Linked DNA regions of Homo sapiens. Changing the gene in region 2 together with the main gene of any one other region gives a genetic interaction. Each region holds a gene or a part of one and is shown on either strand. Other genes may lie near its edges.

The links.
Region 1: changes in MAN1B1 (region 2) and TBL1XR1 together harm fitness more than expected from each alone (negative genetic interaction), as found in Homo sapiens cells (one large-scale study listed by BioGRID).

What each region holds. Positions count from the first base shown.
Region 1 is NC_000003.12:177,033,351-177,037,171, reverse strand, and holds part of TBL1XR1 (F-box-like/WD repeat-containing protein TBL1XR1), read left to right. Parts: intron 1-2,846; coding exon 2,847-2,974; intron 2,975-3,821. UniProt on the Homo sapiens protein: F-box-like protein involved in the recruitment of the ubiquitin/19S proteasome complex to nuclear receptor-regulated transcription units. Plays an essential role in transcription activation mediated by nuclear receptors.
Region 2 is NC_000009.12:137,103,871-137,107,040, reverse strand, and holds part of MAN1B1 (endoplasmic reticulum mannosyl-oligosaccharide 1,2-alpha-mannosidase), read right to left. Parts: coding exon of another isoform or gene 2,676-3,170; exon of another isoform or gene 2,065-2,675; intron 917-2,064; coding exon 726-916; intron 353-725; coding exon 232-352; intron 1-231. Other genes in the region: uncharacterized protein LOC124902313, read right to left, coding at 2,831-3,170. UniProt on the Homo sapiens protein: Involved in glycoprotein quality control targeting of misfolded glycoproteins for degradation.

The DNA.
Region 1 (3,821 bases), on a different chromosome or scaffold from region 2:
GATTTTGCTGTGGTATGACTATGTATCACCATTGCTGGGAAACTGATACATAGCAGAGAATCTCTCAGTGAGCGAGCCTAGTTGACATACCAACATCCACATCTCAACATGGATCTCTGTTTTTCTTGTTGTATGACTAAAAGCAAAACTGCTGTCTCGCACCTAAGCACACCAGATTCCTCATTTGGGGAAAAAAGCATTTGGAGATAAAGAACAACGTAATACTTATTTCCAAAATAAATGAAGCTTTGAGCCCTCTCCTGCAACAGCTAACCCTCTACTGAAAACAGTTTTATCCTTGACTTTGCAGTACCAAGGACTGCAGATGTGATGACCGTTACAGATATGAAAATCATGAGGGAAAACTGATTTTCCTGCTACTATGAACAGATTAAATTTAACTTTGCGAAACTTGTGAGGTTTTCTCCTTTAAGTATCTGCTATGTTTTTAGACAGTTCTTCTTAAGTCTGGGCTCCCTTACAAAATTGCTAGTATTAATACTCTTCTTAATGCTTTCATCTTTGGCTTTTCCTTATGTGCACACGTATTAATGCTTATAACATGAAAAAAACTTCTTCTGGAACTGTGTGTGACACATATGAGGAAATGACAGAAGGGCAGTGTCCAGAGGGCCTTGTGCCACATATTGAGTTGAAGCTGGAGAGAGGTTAAAACTAGAAATTGTTAGAGAGCTTTTCTTCATCCTAAGAATGTTTAAATGTCACAAAGGATTTTAAAGCAAAAACTAGGATGGATGGATAATGTGTAATGGGCCGTTTTCTGAGAAGAGGGAATGCCAGATGGAATGAGAAGGTGACGCTGAGTCATGCGAATGGAGGAGATAGGTGGGACTGATGCTTAGAGAACTGTAAGCTCAAGATTAAAAACTGGGAATTCTCAGCAGATAGGTGGTCTTTAAAATCCTTGGGCATGGCCAGGCCTGGTGGTTCACTGTTGGGGTTCAATCAGGCTGGTGGGAAAAATATTAGAGATAGTTATAGAAATAGACACATATCTTCTTGGAAAACTGAGAAGTAACTTCAGTAATAGATCTGGCTGAACGCGGCCTGGTTCCTTTACCTTTAGTTAAACAAATTAAACTAGTAATAAAGGAAGGCAGGGTAGTTTACCTAGCTAGCTTGTTTACTCATATAATATTAAGACTAACCTTTGATGTGCCATGGGTGCTTAAGTGCTTTTTACTTGGGAAGTCCACAATGTCAGTTACCCTCTAATGGTGTTGACTCAAGCCTTTGTGAATTAATCTTACTGAATAAATTTGAGTCTCACTAGCGGATAGGGCCATGGTCGCAACTGTTTACAGAACTCTCCAGGGAGTCTGTAAATGGCTCGGACACCCTCAGCTGGACTGGCGAAACAGGATATCTGTGTGTTAGTGTACTTTATTCATCCATTGCTGGGTCAGGGTCTGCAGGCAGACACCCACAGCTAGTGCCCCCATGTTGCCACAGCTCATGCCTATAATTAAAGCACTTTGGGAGGCCGACGTGGGCAGTTCACTTGAGGTCAGGAGTTCAAGACCAGGCTGGTCAACATGGTGAAACCCCATCTCTGCTAAATATACCAAATTTAGCCGAGCGTGGCGGCAGGTGCCTATAATCCCAGCTACTCTGGAGGCTGAGGCAGGAGAATTGCGTGAACCCGGGGGACGGAGTTGCAGTGAGCCAAGATTGTGGTGCTGCACTCCAGCCTGGGCAAGAGAGTGAGACTTCATCTCCAAAAAAAAAAAAAAAAAATTGGGGCAGGGACAAAACTGTGTAGGTAGTACAGAGTAAGAAAAGAGGGGACCTAAAAAAGTGAGTCTTAGAAACTCTAACAATCACCAAATCAAGAGGGATGAGCTTTCCAAAGGAAACTGAGAAGGTGACTGAGAAAGTGGAAAAAGAAAGTATGTAGAGGAAACTTATTTCAAGGGAGGTAAGAGTTGAGAGTGGCCAACAGTATCAAATTCTATGAATTAGAAAGGTCTAATGAAATCAGTTCTGAAAACATGTCGTTCAGATTTATTTTACTTGGGGTTGTAAATACATAGGGCACCAAAAACACTCTGATGCTTCATTATCTTTTAATGGTTATGTCACGGAAATGTAAAGTTGAGCTGATTTTTTTCTTGGTTGGCCCTCCTTGGGTTTGGCATGTTGTATGTGTATGTGTTAAGGAGATAACTGCAGGACCTACCATGTCTTTATTGAGTGATTTTTTTTTTCCCAGAAATACTCTTCGTGTTGATTTCTATGAATTTTTGCTCAAAAATAATAGTCACTTGAAATCTATACACACAGGCATATTTTCATCTCAGGAAAGGCTTATTCTCTACTTTGACTACTTTTTTCTACTTTTTTTTTTTCCTACTTTTCATTTGAGCTTTATTTCCTATGCTACTTTTTACGGTTCTCTGTGAGTCCTCATTATTTATAAGTTGGTTATTTATTTTCAGTTCTCCATTGTAAAATTTTCCTGATTCTAAAATTCTAAGAGCAGTTTATTATGTAGATCTTTTGCTTAAGGGACAGTGTAAAAACTGTGCCTTCAACATTTTAGGATCGTTAACTAATCTCAGAACAACTATAGTTAATTCAGTCTTCAAACTTTGTAATAGTGAATATTTTTAAAGGGCTTAAAGCTAACTTTTTTTTTTAAACAGAGATGTAAATATTAAATATATCCTATTGCATTTCAGTTTCTTTGTAAATATTCTATCATCATTCTGGTTATATCACTCATGTTTTAGACTGTCCATATAATATTTTAAGTGTCAAAATAATATTTTAAATATACTCATTGTATGGAAAAATAATTGTATACATTTTTCTTTTTTGTTTAGATATGGAGTATGAAACAAGACAATTGTGTCCATGATTTGCAAGCACATAATAAAGAAATTTATACTATCAAATGGAGTCCAACAGGACCAGGGACTAATAATCCAAATGCCAACCTTATGTTAGCAAGGTGATACTTCTGTTTCATTTTTCCTTTTATGAGTCTTCTACAAATCAGACTTCCAATAGATATGACAGAAGTTTAGGGAAGATTTCATGAAGTGGAAACTTTTTTTTTTTTTTTTCCAATTTCAGTAGTTTTTGGTGTATAGGTGGTTTTTGGCTACAAGAATAAATTCTTTAGTGCTGATTTCTGTGCACTGGTTTTGCAAGCAGTGTAGTGTACCCAGTGTGTAGTCTTTTATTCCTCACCTCTCTTCTCAGCCTTCTCCCCACTCCCACCTCCAGTCCACAAAGTTCATTATATCATTCTTATACCTTTGTGTCCTCATAGCTTAGCTCCCACTTACAAGTCAGAACATGATATTTGGTTTTCCATTCCCGAGTTATTTCACTTAGCATGATGGCCTCCAGCTCTATCCAAGTCACTGCAAAGGACAATATTTTATTTCTTTTTATGGCTAAGTAGTATTCCATGGTGTATGTATACCACATTTTCTTTATCCACTTGTTAGCTGATGGGCACTTACGTCGGTTCCTTAAGGGGAATCTTTAAACACTGAGTTTTATTATTGTTTCAAGTTATAATGATATTCTATATTGAAATAATCAAATATTGACTGATACCAAATACTGATTAAAATCCAAGCAATTGAGGCATAGCAAAATCTTCAGTATCTTTAGAAAAAAAAAAGATAAATGGAAAAATGTGGTCACTTTGGTGTTCAAAACCATGCGAAAGAGGGATTATTTAGACAGAGAGGAATACAGTAAATGAGCACATTTACGTTTTCTACTCCTGGACTTGGGAGATTCCTTTAAGTTGTTTTTTTCGCTTGTTTAGCTTTTAATTTCTA
Region 2 (3,170 bases):
CACCGGGCACGGGGAGGGAGCTGCCCTGGGGAAGCCCTGCCCACCCCAGGTGCCACACAAGGCCTTACTGCCCTGTTGCCAAGACAGGCCTGGCCAGGCAGCCACGGTCCACCCAGGGCCTCCACGTGGGCGCCATGGCCAGGATTTCGTTCTTTTTGACATCATGACTCAGGCACCTTGGAAGCCAAGGTAAAAGGGGCGGCGGCCGGAAGGCCCCGCAGACACACTCACCATCTTGGCACTGAAGCGGCCGTGGGCAAGCTCCCCCACAAAGGTGAGCTTACTGGGCTCGGAGTGCCGCAGCAGGTGCGTTCTGACACCCTCGATGGCTTCCACGTAGTCTTCCAGCAGCCTGTGGACACCAGCAGTCATCTCACTCTACCAGGACGGTGCATCGGCTCCCGTGGGGCACCAGGGACAGGCACATCCTGGGCCCACACAAGTACAGCAGGCCTGGCCCTTGCCGGACAGAAGGTGCCACCCTGCACAGCCCATGGCCCTCAGTGAAGATGCCCCCCTCACCCCCCCAGAGGCCACGGTGAGAGGTGAATGAATACGCCCTCCACATAAATGCCTGGGCCAGGCCTGGCACGGCTGCGGTTTCCTGACACACAGTGTGGCGGGGGGCAGCAGGAGCGGGGGCCGTGGGAGCTGGGGGCAGCAGGAGTGGGGGGCTGCGGGAACGGGGGAGCCGCGGGAGCTGGGGGCAGCGGGCCGGGCCTCACTGTGTCTCCTGCTTCCCGCCCTGGATCCACTGCTTCAGCAGGTACTCATAGTAGCTGTCGGCCCTGGCGCCCAGCGTGAATACGCCCAGGTGGGTGAAGAGGCCACTGTGGGTATTGATGAACATGGGCACCAGCCCATCCTTCTTCCCAGACAGGCCGTGGATGTGCTGTGTCACCTTCTCCACTGCCTCCTGCGGCAGAAAGGGGGATGGTGGGTTTACTGGCCAGGGCCGAGCTGCAGGGTGAGCTGTAGAGGGGCTCTGTGAGCTCTGCCTCCCCTCGCCCCAGCACCGACTGACTCCCAGCAGAGAGAGCTCTGTGCCCAGCCCACAGCTGTCCTTGCCCACATGGCTCCTGGTGGCCGTACCACACAGCCACACAGCCACCAGTGCAACGCACCTGAATGTCACTGCTCCCAACGGGTGGTCACCACAGAGCTGACCCATCTTCAGGATGGCTCTCATCCCTTACTCGAAGGGACAGCATCTGACAACCACAGGCACTGTCCTCACGAGAGCCCACCAGGCCTGGCCGTCAGCCATGGCTCTGGAGGGACGGCAAGTGTGCCTGCCTTCTGAGCCCAGTGTTGCTCCTGATGATATTAAACGCCTCGGCTCCACGCCCTCCTGGTGAGCTCCTACTCATCCTCCAAGTCACAGCCACCCTCAGCTCCTCAGGGCTTACGCCCAGCTGGCAGCACCAGGCGTCCTGGCCCACAGAGGGGCACAGGGTACCGGGATGTTAGGGCACGCCCAGCAAGGGCGCTCCGGGTCTCTACCCAACGCAGACACCCAAACCCATGCCCAGCACCTTCGAGGCCTGGCTGCCTATCCCTGTGTACCGGCAGCAACCAGAGGCCCTGGTGACATGGGGGTGCCCATGGGGGCCTGGGGCCATTTTCTGAGCTGCAGTGAAAACGCCTTCTAAATGTCTGCATGGGAGCCTCACGTGGATGGCGTGTGGGAGCCTCACGTGGATGGTGTGGGCTGCACTTCTCACCACAAGTGGTCACAGTTGCTCTAAAGAGGGCTGTGTCCAGCTCATGATTAAAAACAGGGACTCGAACATGAGGCCAAATACATGAGCAACAATAAACTGACCAGCTGTGCTTCATGAAAATGACAATCTGTTATCTATCAAAATACACCATTAACAAAGTAAAAAGAGGCCGGGCACAGTGGCTCACACCTGTAATCCCAGCACTTTGGGAGGCCAGTGGGTGGATCACCTGAGGTCAGTTCCAGACCATCCTGGCCAACATGGCAAAACCCCATCTCTACTAAAAATACAAAAAAATAACGGGGTGTGGTGGTGGGTGTGGTCCCAGCTACTCGGGAGGCTGAGGCAGGAGAATCGCTTGAACCCGGGAGGTGGAGGTTGCAGTGAGCCGAGATCGCGCCACAGCCTCAGGCAGGTGTGTGCACCCACACTCACAACACCCAAAACACAGCCTCAGGCAGGTGTGTGCACCCACACTCACAACACCCAAAACACAGCCTCAGGCAGGTGTGTGCACCCGCACTCACAACAAAGCAGAGCCTCAGGCAGGTGTGTGCACCCACACTCACAACGGCCAAAACACAGCCTCAGGCAGGCGTGTGCACCCGCGCTTACAGCAACCAAAACAGCACAGTCCTGGTGTCCACCAGAGGAGAGAGGATTAAACAAAAAGTGGCCTAGCCACGCAGCAGATATTCAGCCTGAAAAAGGAATCTCTGAAGCATCTTTCGCGTATGAAGCTTAAAGACGCTGAGTGAAAGGAGCCCAAATAAAAGGATAAATCAGCCGGGTGTGGTAGCTCACGCCTGTCATCCCAGCACTGTGGGAGGCCCAGGCGGGTGGATCACGAGGTCAGGAGTTTGAGACCAGTCTGGCCAACTTGGTGAAACCCTGTCTCTAATAAAAACACAAAAATTAGCTGGGCGTGGTGGCAGGCGCCTGTAATCCCAGCTACTTGGGAGGCTGAGGCAGGAGAATCACTTGAACCTGGGAGTGGAGGTTGCAGTGAGCTGAGATCACGCCACTGCACTCCAGCCTGAGTGACAGAATGAGACTCTGTCTCAACAAACGAAAACAAAAAAAGGACAAATCGTGTGTGACTGCACTCACACGAGGAACTCCACACAATGAGGTCCAGGAAGAAAAACCTGAACAGTGTTTTTCAGGGACTGGGGAGGGACATGAAGGGTCACTGTGTGATGGGAGAGCTTCAGTTTTAAGATGAAAAGGGCTCTGGAGATGGAAGTGATAGCTGCACAACAGCATGAATGTGTGTAACACCACTGACCTGTACTCCTGCAACAGCGTGAATGTAACACCACCGACCTGCATGCCTGCAACAGCATGAATGTGCAACACCACCGACCTGCACGCCTGCAACAGCATGAATGTGTAACACTACCGACCTGCATGCCTGCAACAGCATGAATGTGTGTAACACCACTG